Linked DNA regions of Homo sapiens: region 2 is linked to region 1. Evidence: fine-mapped QTL for protein levels in blood plasma. Region 1 holds a variant in brackets. A gene starts in the other region. All regions are shown on their forward strands.

Evidence for each region. PIP is the chance, under the fine-mapping model, that this variant and not a neighbour inherited with it causes the effect. Protein levels are from antibody-based Olink assays in UK Biobank. Linkage for the fine-mapping came from a reference panel and not from the study's own genotypes, which makes the PIPs less certain.
Region 2: ESM1 starts here. The variant in region 1 is fine-mapped to the plasma level of the ESM1 protein (UK Biobank, PIP above 0.99).

Annotation. Positions count from the first base shown.
Region 1 is chr9:134,203,560-134,206,402 of GRCh38, forward strand. LOC124902298 (a long non-coding RNA gene) reads left to right here. Exons shown (of 3, transcript XR_007061835.1): 2 at 1,457-1,632; 3 at 2,792-2,843. Among named protein-coding and RNA genes, the nearest start is that of RNU6ATAC, 40 kb to the left of the region's middle. RefSeq lists enhancers at 164-665, 666-1,165. The variant A/G (reference allele first, on the strand shown) is at 1,251.
Region 2 is chr5:54,984,185-54,987,096 of GRCh38, forward strand. It overlaps ESM1 (endothelial cell specific molecule 1), which reads right to left and starts at 1,409. Exons shown (of 3, transcript NM_007036.5): 1 at 1,033-1,409. The coding sequence starts at 1,333.

The DNA.
Region 1 (2,843 bases):
TAGGAAGTTTTTTTCTTTTAAAATTACTGATTAAATTCATGGAATGGTTATAGGACTACTTAGTTTTTCTATTTCTATTAGTTTTCTATTCCTTCTTGAGCTTGTGTCAATGAGTTATGTATTTGTTCTTAAGAATTTGCCCATTTTGTCCAATTTCATACAATTTTTGGATATATTGATATATTATTCATTTTTCAATAGATGTGAGACTTTATGTCATTATGGAACACAATGTTATTTTGAAGTGTTTGTCAGATTGCCATACAAAATCAGTTTCTTCCTCTACCATTTCTTCTTGTGTTTTAAAATGTTAGTTTGCTCATTTCGATTGGGAGGAGTTGAGGTTTTTCTTCATCTGGTTTTATATCGTTTGCTCCCTTTCTCTCCCTGATTAGTCTAGAATCAGGTATTAAGGTGGTGTTTCTGCAGTGCTGTGACATGGAGCACAAAGCAGATACGGTCCTGGAGGCAGAAGGCATCTTGGTGAGGCTTCTCATTTTGAGGTTGTGGCATCAGCCCTTCCCTGCTAACCCCACCACCTGCCTCCTCCATAGACTGCAGTGTCCCTAAACTATAACTTCAGCACCAAGGCTGCTGGGCTGTTTTCTTGCCCTCTTTCCCAAGCCTGTGTCCTGGCCCGCACTGGACTCCAGTCCCTGTTGCCCTTTGGGAGTGCTGAGTCCAGATCCTGCCACTCCCAACCTGGAGCCCTGTGGGCTGTGGTGCTCACCCTGCTCCTTCTGTTTCTGATTTGTGAGAGGCTTGTCTTGTTTTCAGCCCAGGCATATGTTCTGGGCCCCCTTGTTTATATTGCACTGATGGCTGCCTTGTGGTGGGGCAGTGGGTGTGAGCAGCTGTGCACCTGCAAGTGTTTTGATCAAAAATCCCTTTGTTTTGAAATGCAATTTGTTCTCTTTGTTGGTCTCAGACTCTCCAATCCAGAGTAGAGAGGTGGCCTTACCTTGACAAGCAAAGGCGCTTAAGAGGGTTTTCTGAGTAACAAAGCATCTTGCTTGCCCTGTAATGAATTCTGCCCCTGCCACCCTGGAATGCAGACATGGCTGTGGGTTTTTAAGCCACGTTTTTCTTTCCTTCTCCTAGATTTCTGTACTTACGCATTTCCACACATGTGACATTTCAAGATGGTGGTGCAGTGGAGTGGCCTCTCTTAGTCACAGGGCTTTTTGCTGGCCCTTCCCTGACTGCTAGTGTCCTCCTCAGCCCTCCTTCCCTGCAGCCTCCTTCCCTGC[A/G]ACCTCCTTCCCTGCGACCTCCCTCACCCTTCCAGTTTCAGCTTAAATACGGCTCCCTCAGAGAAACCCCGAGCAGCCGGACCCTCTTTATACTCCTCTGCACTCTGTCTTTGCCTTCTAGGAGTTCGATGCCCATGTGGGCACCCTGGCCCATCATCCCAGATGGGCTGAATGAAGGACTTGACGTTTCTTTCCCACCTCCCCAGGCCTGCTTCCGTCCCAACACTGCTCCTGTCACAGAGAAAGGACCAGAATAAGACTGACTCTATCCCCTGTCCCCATCGCTGGGCATCTGATCTTCTCCGCGCCCAGTCCAAGGATCGTCTGCATGCCTTCCCTTCTCCCTCTCCCTCTCTGAAGGGAGCGAAGCAGCTCAAATTCGGTATGTGCCCTGTCTCTTTGAGAGGTCCAGTGTGACTTCCTGTTTGAAGATCTTCTAAGTTTATGGAATTTTAGAAACGCTCTGCTAATAAGGCAGAAGTGACCTTTGACCTCCCCTCCCCGCTTCCATCCTGTAACAGGAAGCCAGTGATTCCTTTCTGCCCCACCTACCAGAGGGGCAAGAAAACATCCCTGGGAGGAAGGCCGCTGCCTTTTGCTCTTCATCTTCTATCTGGAAAGTTCCGTGCCCTCTTCCCTGGGGGGATGAGTAAGACGGCACACAGGGCTTGGGAATTTTTAATAAGGGCCAGAGCTCTGCAGGGATGCTTGATGGGGGTGCTCGTTTTCGAGGTGGGGAGGCTGGAGGAGAGGCAGATGCTTCCAGGAGTAACTGTCTGGTTACCAGACTGCAAGACCCACGAAGCCCAATTCTCCACCCAGGGAGGGGCGGTGGGGAAGAGGCCATCAATTTAAGACTTTTATTTACCTTGAACTACTCAGCCAAGCAGACACATTATTTAGGAACTAGAATAAAAAGCCATTCACTTTACTTCAATTGACCATTTAGTTCAATTTGTGTGTTACTGCAGGTAATTACTCCAGTAATAACACGCGGTAATCGGCGCTGATTGGGAGCCGGCCCCGGCTCTGTATTAATACCGCGTGCCATATATACTAATTATCCGTGTGTTACCATGGTTATTTGCATGGACGCCGTGTTAACGACACCCTGGAAACACAAAGCAATAGCGAGTTTTGAATTAAATCTTTGTGTTCTCTTAGAGCTAAAAGTGCATTTCACATAAAATAATCATGAATAAAATGAGATCATCTTGGCGGAGTTGCCAGGAAGCTGATTAACTGAACTGCGTAAATGTGACTTTATCCCACTCAAGAATTAGAGCCTCCCAAACGTTGTCGGGGTTGCTAGGCAACCCCCCGAGATGACATCACTCACACAAGCCACGCTGCGGCGATGTCATCTCTACATATTTATAGCGCCTCTGCAGAGAGGGTGTGCATTATGGAAATGACATGATTTTTCTCCCGGTTGATGGGTATGAATGGCCGTCAGACCTCTGAGGGCTGTGGAGAAAGAGAATTTGGGAATACCTGTGTGACACTTTCCTGGGGTGTGACAGATGCTTTATTTCCACCAGGTTACCCTAATGGGTCCAAATGAAAAGGCGTGTGTCACAGCTGATGAGTCGT
Region 2 (2,912 bases), not on the chromosome of region 1:
TGGATAAATATTATTCATAAAAAATGTATTAAATACATAAAACATAATAATTATTTAGAAATTTCTCAGTCCTTTTTATAATTTTGAAAGCTTCCTGGTATTACACAACTGATGGATGGGGTTATAGCATGTGTTGCTTCTTAATAATAGCTCTTCATAATAAGATCATGAGATATCTATACGTAGAGTATTTTTAAATCATCATTCTTTTTATTCTAAACATTTTTAAAATGTTAAATATTTTAAACTAGTTACTATGTTTAAAATAAATTCTACAAATGCTTAACTACATTATTTAGCTAAAATTTCAACCGACGAAGTTTTTCTTTAAGTGTACAAGTGGTCAACCTCATTCTTTACAGACTTCCAGTTTTTATTTTTCTCTATTGTTATTTTTCCTTGTCTTAACACCATCTGCTATTTTTCCAGATGACCAAAACCTTTATAAAGTCAGATGAGGTTTGTTTTATGCTTCAGGGGACCCTCTTTGAAGAGTGAGTTATTTTGTTAGATGACTTAAGCTCACTCTATTCCATAAAGTGCATTTGTGTTTATCAGAAATATTTGATCTTGAGAGTGGCCCTCCATCCTGTGGACCCTTTCAAGATCAAAGAATCACTAAATCTGGGGGCTAGAAACCATTCCAAGAGGTTATCTAGTGCAGACCTTTGTAATCGCTGCCTCGCAGAGGAGAGAGCACCTAAGCCATCCTTAACAGATTACCTGTCAAGTTTCTAAAGTTTTCCAGAAAAGGAGCCAACACAATCTTCCATTGCAGCTTTCTTTTTGCGATCTCCTAAGGCAACGAGTAAAATGCCACACTTCTTTCTGTGCCTTCCTGCACACTGGTTTCAGTTGCTACTTGGAGCTATCCTTCAGTCTCTACCCATGACAATACCTGTGTGGTGCCTTGTCAAGAATCCACCTGCCTTTTCCCTCTTACTCTTGAGGAGCAAAGCCACCTCACCTCCCAAGCTGGCTAAAAGCTCTCAGCATGCCCCGGGAGGGGAGAGGTAAGGGGTCACTCTTTACCTTTGCAGATACCAAACTCTTCACCAAAAGGATCCTCCCCATTAGAAGGCTGACACCTCAGCCCCGGGCCACACTTCATGCCATCCATGCCTGAGACTGTGCGGTAGCAAGTTTCTCCCCGCCCTGCAGCGCACACTCGGCAGCAGCCACAGTCGTCGAGCACTGTCCTCTTGCAGCGCGGGCTGCTTTTGCACTCACTGCTGTCACAGTGTTGAGGGCAGTCCACCGCATAATTATTGCTCCAGGCGGCCACCAGGTGTGCAGGCACGAGGAGCGTGGTCAGCAGCAAGACGCTCTTCATGTTTCCCAGCTGCCTCCGGCTCGGCTCTCCAGTCGTGGTCTTTGCTGGTGGGAAGCAGCCGTCCAAACTGGTAGCTGAGCCTCTGCCTACACGTTTATGAGTTTTATACACTGGGTTGCCCGCATGCTTTCCCGTCATCAATTTCCTCAACCCAGCAGCAGCGCTGTCCTCCTGCCAGGCTCTCTTGTTTTGGTTTATGAAATCCAGGATGAAGGCTGGATTAACACGCTGCTGCCATCCAGGAATTGAAAAGCCCAAGCTGATGTCATCTGTTATGTTTAGATGGTTGTTTTGCATGAGGACTGAAAAACTCACTCACATCCGTCTCAAGGGCTCAAGGACGTCTGTGAAGGAGGGATAAAGAAGGTTGCACACCCTCCTTCAGGACGGGAATTGTTCTGACCCTGGCATATCACTTGAGGTGTAGCTTTGTCTCAGAGCCTCTGTAGTCAGGAGGAAAATGATATCAACATGAATCATCAGGACCGAAGAAGCTTCTTCAAAAAAAATAATAAACATTTGGTATTTCCCCTCAACAAATAGCTATGAGATCATTTGAAAGAAGAAAGGGTTATATTGTGTCTTTTCAATACTTAGAAGAAAGAAAATATTTTGATAGGGCTATTTTTTAAGACCCTCTCTTCCTTCCTCTCACCCCTCTCCTCAAATGTTATTTCTAAAGCAATTCATGTTACATATATCTAAGCCTATTGTGGATATAGCTGTGCTTCCAGTACAATGTGGAACTGCCTCTGAGAATTTCTTTTAAAATCAATACAAAAAGCCACAAGAGAGGTAAGATCCTTTCGGCACTGCTTCTGGGTTACTCAATTCTGGAAAAACTTATCAGTTGGACTTCTGATCCAAAACTTCCTCAGGGGAAGGCTCATCCATCACTAAGTCTGCTTGTCCAATGACGGAGTCCACCCAGAGCCCTTCCCCTCACCTCCTGGCATCTATCAGAGCCCTCACTAAAAACTGCCAAGCGCGGCAGCCAGCCCAAGGCAACAAGTGGCTCAGCAGGAAAATCAGAACACAGCCCCCAAGAAACAAGTCACAGGGAAGGGAAACATTACCCCTCAGGAAACAAGGTCTGCATGCTAAGAGGGTTACCGTGCCTAGGTCCCTCTGGGAAAACAGAGTAGCCCTCTTAAAATATCAACTGTGCCAGGGTCTTATTAAGTAAGGTTAAAGAGGAGAGAGGGGAGTTCTTACACCAACCACATGCCGAATTCCATGCCCCCACCTCACTTGTCAAAAGAGATATAGACTCACTGTCACTTAGTAAATAACAACCCAGTAAAGTGGGTAATTCTTGGTCTGTCACAAATGAGCTGTAAGAAATTCACAGGACTTCTCTTGGCCTCAGCTTCCTCTTTTGAGAATTGATGGTGTTAGGCTACCTGACCTCTAAAATTCTTGTTTCCCATAGAAGATGAGGCAGAGCGGGCATTGGATGTAACTTGAAGATCGGCTTTTGCAAATGCAATTTTAGGGGGACACAGGGAGTAAATTCAGAATACAGAGAATTGAGGCAGTAGGAAATGAAAGCAAGAGTTTTAGCTTTCAAATTTTCCAA